2 linked regions of the Homo sapiens genome follow. The protein of the gene in region 2 interacts with the protein of the main gene of each other region in a pairwise test. Each region holds a gene or a part of one and is shown on either strand. Other genes may lie near its edges. The genes, in order: TTC4 and HGH1.

Region 1 (3,297 bases), on a different chromosome or scaffold from region 2:
TGGTCCTCAGGTCCTTAAGTGGCCAAAACCAGGAGTAGGAAGGAGGCTGAACTTCAGCTTCCTAGCCACAAGCCACAGACAGGGACCGGCACCTGGAAGCTGCATGGTTCTTTGTAAATATTCCACAGCCAATTTCCTTTCAAAGACAGTGAGGCACACTACACAAAACTCTAAATTAGTCTACTTTTTTTTTGGTTTGTGTTTGAGACAGAGTTTTGCTCTTGTTGCCCAGGCTGGAGTGCAATGGCACGATCTTGGCTCACTGCAACCTCCGCCCCCCGGGTTCAAGTGATTCTCCTGCCTCAGCCTCCCGAGTAGCCGGGATTACAGATGCCTACCACCACGCCTGGCTAATTTTTGTATTTTTAGTAGACACGGGGTTTGCTATGTTGGTCAGGCTGGTCTCGAACTCCTGACCTCAGGTGATCCACCCACCTCCGCCTCCCAAAGTGTCGGGATTACAGGCGTGAGCCACCGCACCCAGCCTCAAATTAGTCCACTTTTAAGGACAGCAGCTGGCTTCAGTTTACTCATGTATTAGCTCTGCTATAGTAACAACCAACCCCTAAATCTCACTGCTTACTACAGCAAACATTGCTCTCTCATTGCTGTGACACTCAGTGGCTGCAGGCCAGCTGCTGTAGCTCGGCTCCATGGAACGGCTCCTCTGTGGGAAATGTGTTCTCACAGCAGAGGGAAGAGCACAGGCCAACCACACATGACTCTTCAGGCTTCTGTCAGACGCAGGACAGCTCATGCCTGTGCATATCCCTCTGCATTGGGAGCAGGGAAGTACACTCTCCCGGGGGGATGGGGTGGGGGCACTGCAAGAAGTCACACAGCTACAAGTCAGGATGGATAAACTCCTCTTAGGAATGGGGCAACAAACAGCTGCAGACAAAAATATACTCTGTAACAACCCAACATGCTAGAAGATTTTCCAGTTTAAAAGACACAAAATCCTAAATGTCAAAACTGCAGAGGAACTCAAGAGGCCACTGTCCAAAGTCTGTCACAGTCCTCCATATGGCAAAGATGAAGAAAATTGGCAATCTTTTTAGGGGTACCAAGGATCTGAGTTTGTACGGTCTTTATAAATGCAGAGCAAGATGTGGCTTTCCTGCCCCCATTTCACCTCAAGGCATCTTCAGCAACCCCACATGGCTTCCCTCTGTGCGCATGAAATAACTTGAGGCCAGGGTCTCTCAGCTTTAAAGCCTTGGAATCCTATGCATTGTTTGTTTGTGTGTAGATGTGCAGTTTGAGGGGTAGCTTCTCTAAGGTGTCAAACTCCACAAAAGTTCAGAATCATGTCACTGGATCCTGAGTCCATCTCCACAGACCAGGGTGCCGCTCAGGTCAGTTGCTGTGGTAACTGCAGCAGATGGTCCCTTTAGCGATGGAGTCCAAGGACATCATGGCCAAGACCCAGAGTTTTATATCAACTGAGGAAAGTGAAGACCAGCCAGAGAGGCTGCAGTTTAGGGAAGCCAGAGGCTCCTCCCCCACCACGATGCCAGGAAGGACTATCCCCAGGGTGACGGAAAGAAAGCACTGGACTCCAGCAGTATGTCCAGCTGATTCAGGTGTGCTAGGTTCCCAGCAGAGGAGGGTAAGGGAGGAGATCCAGGGGCCCTGGCTTAGTCATCGTATCTGGTACACCTTTCTCCCCCGGAGAAAATTCTTGCAAAAAGGAGAGGATCCTACACAGACCAAAAATGCTGGTGTCAGGGCTTTTACAAAGTACCTGCCGTGAACACAACAAAAGAGAGGGTGTTAATTTAATTACAATCTTAACCATCCATGCACCTTCCTAACAACATGCAAGGTGAGCCTCTGGATGGGAGTCAACATGAAAATGCAAGTTTAGCACAGTTATGTGGTTGTTCATAAATCTGGCAAATTAGCATGACATTCTCATCCTTACAACCTAGCCAGAACCTTTAGGCCAGTCCTCTGGCATCATGCATGTCTGTGGCTAAATATGAAATAAAAATATAAAGCATGGTTTTATTCATTCATTCAACATTCAGTGGTAAGCCAGGCCCTGTGCTGAAAACACAGAGATTAAAAAACCAACACCCACACACCATCATCTTTGTTCTCAAATTCAGTCCTGGAGGGGAGGGAGATGAGGAACCAATTAATGACAGCAAGGCACAACTGCAGAAGCATTTGTGAGGCGCAGCATTATCCCAAGGAGGCACGATTCCCTCTATGAGGAAGGGAATCAAAAAAGGCTTCCTGGAAGATGCCATGTCTGAACTTGGCTTTAATTTGGGGAAGGGGTGGTGATGGGGGTTGGGGAGCAAAAGCCAGGAGGTGCAAGTAACCAGAATGTTTGCTGTGGCTAGGGCACAAAGCAAAAGGAGTCAGGCAGGCTAGAGAGGCAGGGAGGGCTTTGGCCTCCCAGGGATAGGGGTGTTGTATTACTCAGTGGGCCTGCTTTGGGACAGAGGGCCTATTTCGTGGCTCCACCCAGTTTAGGGTCTGAAGTTGCCAGAAACCAGTCCTGGGTAGGCTCTTGCCTATGGTAATAATTTTAAAGGTAGTAACTTCCAACAGCATTTACATTTTCTGAGAAGCATGAAACGGGTTTCCTCCAAGCATCGGTCTGCTTTCTATTTAGATTTCTCCTCTGGGGTAGGGCAGAACTCAGGCCTTTAAAGAATTCTGGGTAATTTGCTAACAACTGAGAAAATGAGCAGCTAAAAATGTGTCCAAAAACTAGAAGAAGAGAGATTTGGGACCAGAGCAAAACACCACCAAAGGTATCAATCAGATCTGGAAAAACCTTTCCTTCCTGCCTACCAAGCCAAAGCATTAAGACTAGCTGGACACCCCTATCACATCACTCAACACTACACCAGCTCCCATCCAATCTACCTCCTAAACCTCTAATCCACCTCCTCCTACTTCAGGCCTCACCACTGAACAGTACACTTCAAATCTTTACATTACTCTGTAATTTTTTTGGGTAGTGGGAGGAGGGGGTCTCACTCTCACCTAGGCTGGAGTGCAGTGGTGTGATCATAGCTCACTGCAGCCTTGAAATGCTGGGCTCAAGCAATCTTCCTGCCTCAGCCTCCCAAATAGCGAGGACTACAGGTGCACAACACCATAAAAAAGATTTCTATAGAGACGGGATCTCGCTGTGTTTCTCAGGATGATCTCTAACTTCTGAGCTCAGGTGATCCTCATGCCTTAGCCTCCCAAAATGCTGGAATTATAGGTATGAGCCACTGTACCCGGCCTATTCTGTACATCTTTTAAAATCTTTTTAATTTTTAAAAATCA
Region 2 (8,293 bases):
CCTGCAGCTGCACTGCCCCAGCAGCAGGGCATCCCCAAGGAGAATACGGGCCCTGAGCTCAGGCCTCCAGAAGCGCACCCCAGAAGAGGGGTGGGTTCTGCCCAGCTGGTCCTCTAGAGCTCGTAGCAGCCAGCCTGGGAGTGAGCGCCTCCAGGAGGCGCTCCAGTAAACTGAGGGTGGGTGGGTGGGGCAAGGCCAGATAAAGCATTTATTCTGTGAAGACAGTGCTGATGTCTGAGTGCTAAGAGGGCAACTGGCCTCCAGTGGCAGGTGGGGGCTCTGGCCAGGGGAAAACATGGTCCACACATGCCTGCATGAGTGGCAGAGCTTTAATGGGGGCAGGTGAGAGGAGATCCTGGAGGCGGGAGACGCCCGGCACCCAAGCCACAGCAGGAGACCATAGGGGACGCTCCAGTTTTAGGGTGTGGAGTGAGGCATTGTGAATTGCCAAGAAGACAAGCTAAGCTCCTTCACCAGGGCTTGACGGGCCTGGGAGGGCCCATCAGTGAGCAGGGGCCAGCCCTCAGGATCCCAATGCAAGAGGTGGCAGTGAGGTCAGGTCAGCTCAGGAAGGGAAGTGTGGCAAGAGCCACCATGACAGCCTGTGGGGCTTGGCAGCCACATAACTGGCAGGTGAGGGATGCACATAGGTCCAGGGGAGAAGCACGTAAGGCGCCTGGGCCTATAGTGGGCTCTACCACAGGGGCAGAGGGTGGCTGGGGGAGAAGCTTGGGCAGGGACTAGGCTGCAGGCACATCTGGAGGCTCTTGGCAGAGGTAAGAAGGCCAGGGAGGAGTGGCCCAGGCTCAAGGAAGCTGACCAGGGAGACGGCCTAGCTAGAGAGGCCAATGAGAGCACCCACTCAATCTGAGACTGGGAAACAGGAAGACTTAGGGAGCTGACAAGGGTTGAGGGCAGGGTCCTGGAGCATAGGTCAAGCAGGGAGGCACAGTCCTAGAAAGACCCCAGGATCTACGTATGGCTGGGTCAGCCCTTTGAGGCCAGGTCTCAGGGAACAGGGAGCTGAGAGCTGCAGGGAGTGAGGCTGACAAAGCAGCACTTGTACCTATGCGCCCACCTCTGCCCAGACTCTGCAGTGCCCTGGGGATTGGGAGGCTTCAGCTGGCTCCTTGGGGCTTGCAGTGGTTTTCTGTCCAGTCCCCACGCCGTGCCCAGGAAGAGTCTTCTCATGGCTCCCTGGCCATCCGCCTGCCACCTCCACCTTCTGCACAGGCAGCCGAGTCACGGTGCCTACCTCACAGTACTGCTCTGCACAACCTTCATTCTTGCTGGTAGCAACACTGCACAGGGCTGGAAAGTGCCTCCAATCCTTACTGGAGCCTAAGCGTAGCTCTGCTTCTCAGAAGAGCACAGTCTCTGAACAAGGGGACCCAGGGGGCCTGCAGACAGCTGCAGGAAGGCCTGGTCTGAGAAAGCCTGGCAAAGGGGACCCTGGAGCTGGTGTCCGGCTGCAGGGGCCTCAGGTGGGTGTGGCCCTCTCCACCCATGGCTCTGGGGCCAGCTCCCGCTCCAACTGCTCCTGCTCCCTGCAATCCAGCTGCTGCAGCTGCTGCTCCACATCCTCAGGCACCTGCACCTCCAGCAGGTTTTCCATGCCACGTTCAGGCTCGTCCCCAATAAGCACCTGCCAGACGGGAAGCAGGTGAGCAGCTGGCCAGCTACAGACACCCCTTCCCCAGCCTCTCCAACCCTGCACCAACCTGGATGAGCTTCTCACAAGCCGTCCGCACGTCGGGCTCCGGCTCCCAGCTGTGCAGCTCTCGAAGGATCAGGTAGGCTCCCTGGTCCCGCACCTGCTGCCGACCTGGTGCTGTGGCTGTCAGCTGAGGAGGTGGAAGAGGTTACCCAGATGTCAGCATGCTCATGTGTGTGTGTTGGGGTGGTGCTTATTGCAGCAGGGCTCCTGCTCACCAGCATGATGGCTTCAACAAGCATCTTGCGGATGTCTGCATCAGGTTCTCGCTGCTTGTCTGGTGGCAGGTACTGCAAGTCGACAGGCAGCCCTAGGGGTGAGTGTGTGGGAGCCACTGTGTCCCTGGGCTGGGCAGCTGAGCCAGGCTCTGCCTGTGTAAGTCCCACCTGTGCTCAGCAACTCACTGCTGCAAAGTTTCAGGAGCCTGTGGCCTGGACACCTCTCTCTCCCTCCACTGGCCTCCCTCCTCTCCGGCCAACTCTGAGGCTCCACACTAGCCACTCACGTTCCATCTCTTCCTCGGAGAAATCCTCAGGCCCAGCCAAGGGCAGGAGCAAAAAGGGGAGAATGTCCACCTCAGGTCCAAGCAACCACTCGTGATGTCCTGAGGGATGGTGAGGGTGGGGAGACGGGAATGGAAACTGGTCCAGAGCAGCCCCGGAGTCCAGTCCCCACACCTGGCAACGCACCCCCGCCACACCCACCACTCACGGTGCTCGAAGCAGCAATTCCGCAGCGTCCCCACCACCCCGCCCCTGCGTACAGAGGAGTCGGGGTACTGGGTAAGGGGCAGCAGCCGCTGGACCACGCACCTGTTGGGAGGTGTCACTTAGGGCCGTCCCCCCTAACTTCCGTCCCCTCCCCGCCCGCGCGGGCGCCCTGGGCTTCACCTGTCGGGGTCCAGTAGGAAGGCCCGCGCCGCAGGGCGTTGGCTGAGGTTGGAGAGCAGCGGCGCTAGGTAGTGCAGGGGCGCGCGGGCGTTGTAGCCGGGCGTGCACAGCGCGCGCACCAGCCGCTCCAGGCCCGAGTCTGCCGGCTCCGCGGCCGCCAGCGCCGCCATGAGCGCTGCACACGGCGCCGGCTCGCGACTGAGGTTGGCTAGCGCGGCGGCCGCCTCCTCGGCCCAGGGCCACTGCGGGTCCAACGCGCGGCCCATCAGGCGCGCTGGCAGCCCGGGGTCGGCCGCCAGCAATGTCTCGTGCAGGCCGGGGTCGGCGGCCAAGTTCACGAGCGCGCGGGCGGCGTCCCGGGCCGGGGCAGAGGCCGGCGCCAGCTCCATCAGCGCCTGCAGCAGCGCCGCCTGCCCCGCCAACAGCGCGCGGCCGGGTCCGCAGCCAGTCAGCGCCAGCACGTGCCGCACCGCCGCCGCCTGCAGGTCCGCCCGCGCGCCCGGCGCCAGGAAGGGCAGCAGCTTCACCACCTCTGCCTCCGGGCTTGCCTCCGGCCCTCCCGAGGCGCCAGCGCCAGCCCCGGCCTCCCCCATGTCGAGCGACACTCTGCTGCCACCCGACCGGTGCCAGCGGTCCGCTTAGGGGTCCGCTGTGTGGCCCGCAACCCCGCCCACCAGAGGAGCGAAAGCCGCCCTGGCCAATCCGAGGCTGCGCACTGGGCTCAAGGGGCGGGACCGGCGTGCGGAGGGGAGGGGCCAGGCCGCGCGCGGGGAGTTATGGGTCTCGGCGTCTGGCCGGAAGCTGCGGAGGTTGGAGACTGAGCGCTGTGATGTCCCGAGCCATGGGGACCGAGGCCCGGCGCGATTTGGCCGCCTGCCGCGTCCACACTCGCTGGAAGCGTCCATGTAGTCTCGGCTAGGTCGGCCAGTGCTTCCCACTGGGCGCTGGCCACGCCGAACCTGGTCAGCCGGCCCTGGCTTCTCGTGGGCCCTGAGGGTCTGAGGCCCGCGCCCCGGCTCCTCGACTAGGCTGTCGGGTCAGAGAAGGGCTGAATGGGGGAGTGGCCACGGGCCTCTCGGAAGGAAGGCCTGCTCTTGTCCAGGCTGGCACGGCCACCGAGAAGCTCAGGCCGTCCAGGGACAGGACAACACAGGGCCCCAGTGGGGACCTGAGGAGGCAGCTTTGGAGAGGCCTCTGGGCATCTCTGAGCTGGTAGCTTTGGGGCATTTGTCAGGACGTCTTCAGTCGCAAGTGACAAACCCAACTCAAACTGACTTGCACGAAGAGAAAATTTGTAAATGGAGGTTTGGAGGGAGCCAGCTTCCGGCACTGCTTTATCCAGGAGCTCTCTGGAGCCTTGTACTGTCTACCCTACCATTGCTCTCCCTCTCTGCTGCCCTGCTGCTCTGTGGCTCCATATCATTTCCACCTGCCACTGGCCGATTTTCTCAGAGCAGTTGGGAAAGAAAGACACTGGGACCTCCCAGTTCCATGGTCGTGGCAGAAGAGTTTCTCTGTCCCAGTATTGGAGTCTGCCCCAGAAAAGGACTCCAGTTCTTCACGTGTCCTCCACTGTGGGCGGAGCAGCAACCTTCTAGAGACACACAGACTGGGAGGAAGGGAGGGCAAAAGAAGGGCATTCCCTCACTCCAGCATTTTTTGGGCACCAGCCATCTGCCAAGCTGGTAGCTCAGGACACGGAACCAAACAACTTTGGTGGCCATTCTGGCCTCAGGGTCTTTGCACTTGCTGTCTCTTCTGCCTGGAATGCTCTTTTCTCAGCTGTACACAAGGCTGGCAACTTCTAATTATTTGTCAGAGCTATCTTCCCTGGGCAACTTACAGAGACTCAGCCCACCCGCCACCCATGACTGCTTGGTTTCTGTCTGCCTCCTTCAAGATAGCAGTACTTAGGCCAGGTGTGGTAGCTCATGCCTATAATCCCAGCGTTTTGGGAGGCCAAGGCAGGTAGATCACCTGAGGTCAGCAGTTTGAGACCAGCCTGGCCAACATGGTGAAACCCCTCTCTACTAAAAAAAATACAAAAGGTAACCGGGGGTGGTGGCACACTCCTCTAGTCCCGCCTACTCGAGAGGCTGAAGCAGGAGAATTGCTTGAACCTGGGAGGAAGAAGTTGCATTGAGCCAAGATAGCGCCACTGCACCCCAGCCTGGGCAACAGAGGGAGACTCCATCTCAAAAATAAAATAAATAACAGTAAATTAGGCCGGGTGCGGTGGCTCACACCTGCAATCTCAGCACTCTGGGAGGCCAAGGCATGTGGATCACTTGAGGCCAGGAGTTCAAGACCAGCCTGGCCAACATGGTGAAACCCATTTCTACTAAAAATATAAAAATTAGCCGGGCATGGTGGCGTGTGCCTGTAGTCCTAGCTACTTGGGAAGCTGAGGCAGGAGAATTGCTTGAACCTGGTAGGGGGAGGTTGTAGTGAGTGGAGATTGTGCCACTGCACTCCATCCTGGGTGACAGAGTGAGACTGTCTCAAAAAAAAAAAAAAGAAAACAGTACTTAAAGGAAGGTAATAAAATTTAAGCTTCATGGTGCCTTGCTTGGACGGGTCCTTTCCAAAGCTTCCCTGAGAGCAAACCTTGCATAGTGTTCATATATATAGTCATAATGGTTTTGCAAAGTAGGGTGTAGCAGACATTATTGGTGCAAAACCCACTAGGATGGCTATGATCAAAAACACAGAATTTCTTTTTTTTTTTGAGATGGAGTTTTGCTCTTGTTGCCCAGGCTGGAGTTCAATGGCACGATCTCAGCTCACTGGAACCTCCACTCCCAGGTTCAAGCAATTCTCCTGCCTCAGCCTCCCGAGTAGCTGGGATTATAGGCATGCACCACCACGCCTGGCTAATTTTTTTTTGTAGTTTTAGTAGAGACGGGGTTTCTCCATGTTGGTCAGGCTGGTCTTGAACTCCTGACCTCAGATGATCCACCCACCTTGGCCTCCCAAAGTGCTGGGATTACAGGCGTGAGCCACTGCACCCGGCCAAAAACACAGATTAAACAACTGTTGATGAGGATGTGGAGAAATTGGAACCCACATACACTGCTGGTGAGACTGTAAAATGGAGCCGCCACTGTGGAAAACATTTTGTCAGCTCCTCAAAAAGTCAGACATTTGCTGGGCATGGTGGCTCGCGCCTATAACCCCAGCACTTTGGGAAGCTGAGGCTGGTCGATCACAAGGTTAGGAGTTCGAGACCAGAGTGACCAGCATGATGAAACCCCATCTCTACTAAAAATACAAAAATTAGCCAGGCACGATGGCACGCGCCTGTAATCCCAGCTACTCAGGAAGCTAAGGCAGGAGACTCACTTGACCCCAGGAGGCAGAGGTTGCAGTGAGCCAAGACGGTGCCACTGCACTCCAGCCTGGATGACAGAGCCAGACTCCATCTCAAAAAAAAAAAAAAATCAAAAAAACGCAAACAGAGTTATCATATAACCCAGCAATTCCACTCCCAGGCATCTAGTCAAGAGAAATGAAAACTGAAAACCACACAGAAACGTGAACGTGTACAAGCAGCATTATTCATAGTGGTCAAAAGGTGGAAACAACCCAAATGTCTGTCAACTGACGAATGGAAAAATAAACAGATAAATCCATGCAAAGGGATATTATTCAGCCATAAAAAGGAGCAAAGTACTGACATATGCTGCAACACATATGAACTCCAAAATCTTACGCTAAATGAAAGAAAGAAATCACAAGAGATCACATATTTTATGATCCCATTTATAAGACACGTCCGGAATAGTCAGTTCATAGAGACAGAAAGTAAATTAGCAGTTGTCAAGGGAAGGGTAGGGTAAGGGGAGTAGGAGTGACTGTTAGTGGGTGCTATGGACCGAACAGTGTCCCTCCAAAAAATGCATATGCTGAAGTCCTAACCCCAGTGTGACTGTGTTTAGAGATGGGGCCTCTAAGGAAGTGGAAGGGCACTCACCAAAAACCAAATCTGTCAGTACTTTGATCCTGGACTTCTTCCTAGTCTCCAAAAATGTGAGAAAATACATTTCTATTGTTTAAACCACCTAGTCTATGGTATTTTGTTATGGCAACCTGAGCTGACTGAGACAATGGGTTTGGGCTTTCTTTTTTGGATGTTGAAAATGTTGTAAAATTAGATTATGCTGGTAGTTGCACAACTGTGAATATTTAAATTGTAAATATTCTAAACATTTAAATTGTACTAAAACATTTAAATTGTACACTTTAAATGGGTTGATTGTATTTGAACTATATATCAAAGCTGTTAAAAAGACGGCACCCATGTAACATTTGGGACACGTTGATACCAAAAAGTATTTGTTGTTTGTCTGAAATTCAAATTTAACTGTATCCTGGACAGTAAATTTTGAATTTCAGACAAATAGTAAATACCGTATCCTCTATTCGAATTTAACTGGGTATCCTGTATTTTATCTGGCAACCCTATTTGCAGCCTGTTGGCTTTCTGGCAGTCACCCATGAGCCCACAGACAACTCTCTGTTTAGGAGAGAAAAATACCTTCCTGAATACTGAGGAAACCCATGATGTCACCCAAACTGATCAACTGATGTCACTAATGAATGTGAACAAAAACCAAGAATCACTAGATATTAAGTAAACCAAAGGCATATACCTATTTACAGAGGTAACACAGTATGTGAAGCAGAAGGGAACTTTTTTTTTTTTTTTGAGATGGAGTCTGGCTCTGTCGCCCAGGCTGGAGTGCAGTGGTGCGATCTTGGCTCACCCAAGCTCCGCCTCCTGGGTTCACACCATTCTCCTGCCTCAGCCTCCCGAGTAGTTGGGACTACAAGCGCCTGCCAGCACGCCCGGCTAATTTTGTTTTGTGTTTTTTGTTGTTGTTGTATTTTTAGTAGAGACAGGGTTTCACTGTGTTAGCCAGGATGGTCTTGATCTCCTGACCTTGTGATCCACCCTCCTCGGCCCCCCCGGGATTACAGGCGTGAGCCACCACACTTGGCCGGGAACTTTTATTTATTTATTTATTTATTTATTTTTTGAGGTGGAGTCTCGCTCTATCGCCCAGGCTGGAGTGCAGTGGTGCGATCTTGGCTCACTGCAGCCTCCACCTCTCAGGCTCAAGTGATCCTCCCACCTCAGCCTCCTGAGTAGCTGGGACCACAGATGTGTGCCACCATACCTGGCTAATTTTTTTTTTTTTAGATGGAGCCTCTCTCTTTCACCAGGCTGGAGTGCAGTGGCATGATCTTGGCTCACTGTAACCTCCGCCTCCTGGGTTCAAGTGGATTCTCCTGCCTCAGCCTCCAGAGTAGCTGGGATTACAGGCACCCACCACCATGCCCAGCTAATTTTTGTATTTTTTTTCTTTTTTTTTGAGGCAGAGTCTCGCTCTGTTGCCCAGGCTGGAGTGCAGTGGCGCAGTCTCGGCTCACTGCAAGCTCCGCCTCCCACATTCACGCCATTCTCCTGCCTCAGCCTCCCGAGTAGCTGGGACTACAGGCGCCTGCCACCACGCCCAGCTAATTTTTTGTATTTTTTTTAGTAGAGACAGGTTTTCACCATGTTGGCCAGGATAGTCTCAATCTCCTGACCTCGTGATCTGCCTGTCTTGGTCTCCCAAAGTGCTGGGATTACAGGCGTGAGCCATGGCGCCTGGCCTAATTTTTGTATTTTTTTTTAATAGAGACA

Evidence for each region.
Region 1: the proteins of HGH1 (region 2) and TTC4 interact in binary tests that used the Homo sapiens proteins (3 or more experiments, as listed by UniProt).

What each region holds. Positions count from the first base shown.
Region 1 is NC_000001.11:54,739,861-54,743,157, reverse strand, and holds the end of TTC4 (tetratricopeptide repeat protein 4), read right to left. Parts: intron 1,748-3,297; coding exon 1,645-1,747; 3' UTR 501-1,644; downstream 1-500.
Region 2 is NC_000008.11:144,132,740-144,141,032, reverse strand, and holds HGH1 (protein HGH1 homolog), read right to left. Parts: upstream 3,260-8,293; 5' UTR 3,198-3,259; coding exon 2,605-3,197; intron 2,527-2,604; coding exon 2,426-2,526; intron 2,319-2,425; coding exon 2,220-2,318; intron 2,025-2,219; coding exon 1,933-2,024; intron 1,845-1,932; coding exon 1,722-1,844; intron 1,646-1,721; coding exon 1,481-1,645; 3' UTR 182-1,480; downstream 1-181.